Linked DNA regions of Homo sapiens. The protein of the gene in region 1 interacts with the protein of each later gene in a pairwise test. Each region holds a gene or a part of one and is shown on either strand. Other genes may lie near its edges. The genes, in order: DKK2 and LRP6.

Region 1 (3,831 bases):
TAGCTTCTTCTTTATGTTTTAATACTGTATCTGTATATAAATCGGTATAAAATATGTTTTTGTGGTGCTACCTCTCCAAATAGCTACTTAATTATGCTTCTTAAAGAGTTTGGAAGTCTACTTACATCGCCTTAAATTGAGAATTTATTTATTTATTTCACAAATGAGTTGAATTTCTTATATGCCTTTCATAACATAGCAGTTCTATGGAATATATTTTATTATATTTACTTAACTGGAATCCTAGATTGTTAAAATTTGACATTAGGCTTGTGAAAAAAATTGTTAACATATTCAAGATGAAGGTAAAACAAAATAAAATACTGGGTTGAATAGCAGGAGGCTAGCTGGCAAATGTGAAAATTTTATTTTGTGTATTCTTCTTTAACGAATGATCTAAAGTATGTACTGTTATGAAGAAACAAATAGTAAAATATTTTCTCTTTGAAGTGAAAAGAATAATTCTTTGGATACTTATGAGTCTCTTTATCTTTTTTATTCTATAGTTATGTGGTCACCAACATTCTTAGTATTATTATTTTCAGAAATGAAATGGAAATTAGAAAGGCTATTACAGGGAAGATGTTATTTCCTTTTGTAGAGAAAAACTCTAGAATAGAAAGGTAGCTGAGCTGAATTTTTATGCATCACAATAGTAAATATGATTGAAAATATTGGAATTAATGTGTCAACTAATCAAATTAGCTAATCATGTAGTATCATCCTAAGACCTAATAAGTTTTATTTCCCCCAATTCCCTTTATACTTGACAGATGATGTTGAAATATATTCCTTTCAGGGATACAGGAGGAAGAAGCTCTAGGATGCAGCTTCAAGTAGGCAGATTGGAAACTCAGTCCTTGGTGTTCTTTCTCTTAAATGGATGTTGAAAATAGCCTATTTTAATTTTTCAGGATAGAGAATTAAATATTGCCACTGCAGAAGAAATTCTTGAATAAATTTAGTAATTCGTTAATCTACAAAAGTGAAAATGAGACTATATGAGCTCTATAGTTTTATTGAAAGTTGCCTGATTTCATATAAAGATAAACATTCTTATTTACAGGAATTCTACTTGTTCCATAGGCAAGGTGGATTATTTGTAATATCACTTCTAGAAAATGTGGCTTTGAATTTTAGAAAAAATTTAGAGAGAGAAAATCCACTGTTCTCCAGAGGTGTTACATTTCTCAATTTAAGGTTGGCTTTCAAAAACACAGTATGAGTTATAATGGAAACTGACATAGGAAATTGAGAGTGATAGTATTCAGATGATTGATACAGAATTAGCAAAAAATGAACTGCTGAATTATTCGCATCAATGTTTTAATTTGCCTTTTCATTTGCAGCTATTGCTAATAAGTACTGCATGTATGTGCTGTATATGTATACAGGCTAAATTAAGTTTCAGACTGTTACTAGTATATTTACATAATATATAAATATTTATGCATTTTAATATATATGTCAATTTCTAAGGATACTGTTTCAGATGTTCTAAATTAAAAGTAATTTCAAACAAAATCTTCAATATCATGTGAATAAATATATTTTGATGAAGTATGCCATTTCTCGATACTATCTCTAAAGTTTGAGGTGTTGACTTTTATGGACCACCTTCAAAACAAATTTTAAAAACCCAAACTACTAAAAAAATCAAGCTTTGCAATTCACATATTTTTCTGTGTGAATGAAAAACCTTTGGATTTGTGTTTGTAATTGCTTATTTTATTCTTCTCGTTTTGTCTTTCTGAGACGGGCAGATGAATTTAATTTGAATGCAATGCAGTAGCATTTTGCAATTCTTTTAAAAGTGACTAGAATAGTGATATTTATAGTTATATTTTAAATGTAGATAAACTTTCTGGCATGTGTTTCTAAAAAGAAGCTATGGTTTAACACAAATTCAGATTCTATGATTTTCTGATATGACTGGGACACTTCAAGGATAGTGGTTTGGATGAAGTTATGTTGTGAGAAAAGAATTCTTGAAATTCATTGAAAGAGAAGCTTGAACGAGTTGACTAAAGAGCACTAATATTTGTAGACTGCATTTTCTTTAATGAAAGTGTGCTGTATCTGTATGCACAAACATTCATGAAAGTGCTCACTGAAATAAACTATATACTCTAATATTCGGTAAGGGATCTCTTTACTTTCTGAAATTATCCATGACTTTTTTTTCTAACCTCAGCCCAACTTTCTCCTGCTTAGGAGTAAATAATCTGATAGCCTCTCTGGACATTGACTAACACTAAACACAATCAGGAAAGCAAATCATTTTTACGATTAAATTTTAAAAAATAAAGGAATTTGAAATAATCTACATTAACGTTCCTTTCCTCTCACCATGAATTATAGAAAATTGATAGTTGATACAAGTGGAAAGTTAGTTCTTGAATAGCAAGAAAAGTATTTTAATGATAATCTAATATGAACATCCATCATTTTATTTTTGTGTTAGACTAGAGAGCGCAAGAGGACAAAGTTGCTCAAACTTACTCCAGCTGTGACTCTGACCCTGTCATAATCTTCTTGAATATTCTTCTACAATACAAACTTTTGCACCCTCTTCTCCTTTCCAAGATATTTTGAAACTTATAATTTTAAGATTAGGTAAGGCAATGTCATAGAACTATAGCTAGTATATTCTGATCTAGGAAAATATTGGCTCTTCTTCATTTCCTTACAAAATTGCTTTAAATGTACATTAAAATAATCGGTTACATTTTAGAAGAAATTTATAATAGTTAACATATTTACCATTTTAGACTCAGTCTCTAATGGCTGTTTATTCTTTAGTATTGAATTAACAGCAAAATCAATTACAATCAAATTTCTACCTGTGACTTTCTGACGGCCTGTTGGAGTTGTTTTACTTCCTTATGCCTCTAGTCACTTGTGCTCACTTATAACAAGGAGATAAACCCGTTTTTAGTTATTTATCTGATTGTTCAAAAGGTTTATGTGATATTTGTGTCTGCCTGAGCCCCTTACTACGTCCTTTTTTTAACAGTCCAAAAGCATAAACCAAAAGGAAGTAAGGCTAATCATAATTGATAGACATATTGCATTATGTAGCATCGCTTTAAGATTACACAGAAAGATTTAATATAGAATGCATAAGAAAAATTTAGTATTACTATTTAAGGTAAGCAAAGGTCAATTTTCTGTTCCTCCTCTGTCCACTCTTGACAGGAACTAGAGCAGAATAACATATTTTTCTCTAATTGTAGTGTTAGGACAAACATAAAGCATTCTTTCAAAGAAGTCAGTCGATACAGCATTTGGTAGGTTCTTTTCTTTGTAATGGCAAATTTAATCAAAGAAAACTTTAAAGCAGAAAGATTGCAATATCCTGTTAAATTTTTTTTAATAGAAGTAATTAGTTTATGTATCACTAACAACAGAATTGCTACTCTAACATGTATTCCACAACCCCTGAATCTGCACAACAGATTATATTTTGGGAACCTGAATAATAGTTTAGATTTTTCTATGTGCTTTAAATATAAATTCAGAAATAAAATCAGCAAAAATACAAAAGTAGTCAATTTTTAAAAAAATGTTACTTATCTTTTTCCACAGAGTCAAAAGGGACAAATGGACATCAGATATCCTTTTAAATACTTTGCAGTATCTAATTTAAAACAAAATAATCTAGAGCAAAAAAAGAACAAATCTACAATTTTAAAAAATCAATGAGCAAATAAGTACATTAAATGACAAAACAAATAAAAATATCACAATTAGGGAAAATGACTTCTCAAAGTGGTAGTTCTGTCCAAACCTTTCCCAAGAGACATTAGATCTTCATGTTATACTTTATTA
Region 2 (3,831 bases), on another chromosome or scaffold:
TGAATAAAGAACCTCTGTGAAAGAAAGTATGTTTATTAAACTTTTAGCTACAAAGAATATCATGAGATATATTTTATAACAAATTATTTAAGGATGTTTTAAATTGCTTTTTAACAACAGAGAGATGCTTTCAGAGCTGGGAAAAAAAATCCATATTTAAAACAACTTCTTTTTATACTTAAGAAACACACTTTGCCTGTTCTCCTTACTCTTAATTCCCTATAGAGAGAGGGCACGTTGGAGAAAGTATACTGATTTAGGACATTTTAAGGGACTTCCAGTTTGGAAGAACACCAGTTCTTCTGTTTTTCTTCTTAATGAGAATGTTATTCTTCATTCTCACCCCTATGGATCACCATCTGGTTCTCTAGCAACCAGCAAGACCTGGTAAGAAAATTGTTGTATTTAGCTGTGGCTTCTTTATCTAACTCTGAAAAGCAGAAGCCTGTGTTTTGGAGTGTGTTAGAGTCCCTGGCAAGGGGGCCAGGGAGTCAGAGAGATGGAATTGAGTCTGTGTACAGGATGTTTGTTATGACTTGGCATTGATAAATTATCCTCATAGTAAAAGGTGAAGCTGGCTGACTCTTGGTCAAATGGTTTCCATGGCAGACAGCAATTTGGTTTCAATTTAAAACAAAAGGTTTTTGTAATGTTGCTTTTTTCTTTAAAAATGTAGCCTGACTTTAAAACAGAGGATTTATTTTAGCAATAATGGTCTATCTGCTCCCTCACAGCAGTGCAAGTGTACATATTTAACCAGTTTTGAATTTCATGTGTGCATTTGGCATGTAGTAGCCTTAAGTTAACTGTTCTGTTTTGATCACCTTGCTCAAATTAACAGCTCTATGACTTCTTTGTGAAGTTCTAGGCTGGCTCCTTTTGGTTGTTAGCCGGGGCAGTGAATTGTACAAAGTTATTCCTACTTGGTTCCTGCAGTGGCATTTGGGCTGTATTTTCTTCAAGTTGGAATTCATTTATAATTAGCTCTAGAGTGAAAGGGCTGATATTGAGAGGCTTCACTCCTCTTCTCAGTTTTTTGACTTGTAATTGCAGATTGATTCTTGAAGTTTATATGCCAGTATTTTGTTTTGGACTCATTTATTTAGCTGGGAATCTTTTCTTATTCTTTCAGTTGTCAATTTGCTTACTGTCTTTTATTAGCTTCCTATAGTTAGACGATTTTTTGCTGGTGGTTTACTTGAACAATTTAAAATGAAAAAAAGATTGAGCTCAGTATCTTCATTCTTGGTTATGTGGTTAAGTATTTGGGGCTTGGGCTTTAAACAGTTCATAAATAAACCTAATTTAAAATTCAGTGAAATAAAAATCTGAAAATCTTTATTTTTTAATACTGTTGTTAAGTATTAGTTAATATTTCTTGAGTACTTAAATGTTCAGTACTTTCCTGAGTTTTAGATTTATCTCCTTTAATCCTTACAACAACCTTACAAGGTATAGATGGGGAAACTAGGCTTAGCGAGATTAGATATTTTCCCAAAGTTTGTGTAGCTTCTTGAATCAAATTATATTGGATCCACAACTCTTAACCACTGTGTTATGTTTATCTGGTTCCTTCCCTCCATTGCAGCTGTTTGTTTCTCCATAGCTTGCTTTGTCCTCAATTCTGTGAGGTATTGCCCTGTATTTCTCTTTGTTAAGACAGTTTTACTGAGATGTAACTTACATAGCATATAAAATCCATCCATTTTTTAAATTGTACAATTCGGTGACTTTTTAGTAAATTTACAGAGTTACGCAGTTATCACCACAATCCAATTTTAGAACATTCCTATCAAGCACAAAGATTCTTGTCCTAAATTTCTTTATCTTTTTTTAAAAAATGCTTCTTGAACAAAGGATCTATATCCTACATTTCCTTCTCCTTTAATACTGAGCTACTTAGCTTCTTAGTCATTACATAGTCATTATTCATTGTACTTTTAAATAGCTGGATTAATTCCAATGAAACCATAGAATGTATCACAACTTAATTTGGAGAGTTAGCCATTAAACAGCTTGACCTCAGAGTAGACTCTTCTATTTCACTGTATTACTTTCCATTTCCACTCTAAAGAGAGTGCACATCCTTTTGTGTTAATTTATGTATATTTTATATTTATTTTTCAGTTCTTGATTCTTTATCTAGAGCAGGTAAATTTTACCTCTGGGTTTCAAAGTATTCTTCATTTCACTTTGTTGTTCTAGGTGCCACAGAATTATTGCTTTTAGCTCGAAGGACAGACTTGAGACGCATTTCTTTGGATACACCAGATTTTACAGACATTGTTCTGCAGTTAGAAGACATCCGTCATGCCATTGCCATAGATTACGATCCTGTGGAAGGCTACATCTACTGGACTGATGATGAAGTGAGGGCCATACGCCGTTCATTTATAGATGGATCTGGCAGTCAGTTTGTGGTCACTGCTCAAATTGCCCATCCTGATGGTATTGCTGTGGACTGGGTTGCACGAAATCTTTATTGGACAGACACTGGCACTGATCGAATAGAAGTGACAAGGCTCAATGGGACCATGAGGAAGATCTTGATTTCAGAGGACTTAGAGGAACCCCGGGCTATTGTGTTAGATCCCATGGTTGGGTAAGAAGCTCTACTGATAGTAAATTCTGTGTGGTGTTTCTGTTTTTCACAGGTTCCTGAAAACATTGACTAAGATAACATGACATATATATTGGTTTCCAGTAAACAGCTCTTTAATGGCTGTCTATTTTAGGATATGGTGATTAGAATACAATCTCAAGTTTAAAAATTGCTAGTTTTTTGCCTTGGATGTCTTAGATATTTTTTCTTTCTAAATTAAGTCCATGTTTGCTGACTTTGGGTGTTGTCTGCAGATTTTGCTCGGATTGCATCATTACCATGAAAAATGTGGGAAGAAATTGTTTTCAGAACTCTTTCCCTTCCCCTAGAAGCTTTAATTCCATTTTCAGTACTTTATAGTAAGAATATAGCTTACTTTTTTTTCCCTAAATACATGAATGACTTGATTTCCAAAACTTTGCCAGCCCATGCAGCTTTACTTCTAGTTTGTTGTTGTTGTTTGTTTTGTTTTGCCATGCCACCCTGATCATAGTCCAGGGAAGTACAACTTTTTACATACTCAACAATTTTGTTACTTTGAGATTTATTCTGAGGACAAGCATAGTGACAAATTACACCTCAGTATATACCAATGCCTTAGAGCCATCTAAACATCCAGGAGCCGTAAGAATCACTTAGCACTGCAGGAAGAAATAGTTATTTTGAGAATTCAGTTTGCCATCTGACTAATACTGCTGGGATAAGCCTTTTGTGTCAGAGAGATGACAAGCCATCAAGGAAAAGAGAGAGAAAGTTCATGGAAAAGGGCACACAAAATATTTAAAAAAAAAAAAAAAAAAAAGAAGTAAAACTGTAATCTCATTATTGGGAGGCATTTTCAGGATTGGCTCTAGAACACACTGATCTGAAAATTTCCCACAATCTTATATATTGCTGGGATAAATGTCTTAAACACCTCTTCATATGTTTTTTTTTTTTTCCCCTTCCTTGGCATTAACTGATGATACCAGTGTAATAGGAGGGATGGATCTCACCTTTAGAATATCTGAAAGTTACATTTTATTATCTATTTTTAGCTCATTTTTTGTATACTTCTCTAGGTACATGTATTGGACTGACTGGGGAGAAATTCCGAAAATTGAGCGAGCAGCTCTGGATGGTTCTGACCGTGTAGTATTGGTTAACACTTCTCTTGGTTGGCCAAATGGTTTAGCCTTGGATTATGATGAAGGCAAAATATACTGGGGAGATGCCAAAACAGACAAGAT

Evidence for each region.
Region 2: the proteins of DKK2 (region 1) and LRP6 interact in binary tests that used the Homo sapiens proteins (3 or more experiments, as listed by UniProt).

The regions. Positions count from the first base shown.
Region 1 is NC_000004.12:107,029,649-107,033,479, reverse strand, and holds part of DKK2 (dickkopf-related protein 2 precursor), read left to right. Parts: intron 1-3,831. UniProt on the Homo sapiens protein: Antagonizes canonical Wnt signaling by inhibiting LRP5/6 interaction with Wnt and by forming a ternary complex with the transmembrane protein KREMEN that promotes internalization of LRP5/6.
Region 2 is NC_000012.12:12,179,814-12,183,644, reverse strand, and holds part of LRP6 (low-density lipoprotein receptor-related protein 6 isoform b precursor), read left to right. Parts: intron 1-2,205; coding exon 2,206-2,602; intron 2,603-3,663; coding exon 3,664-3,831. UniProt on the Homo sapiens protein: Component of the Wnt-Fzd-LRP5-LRP6 complex that triggers beta-catenin signaling through inducing aggregation of receptor-ligand complexes into ribosome-sized signalosomes.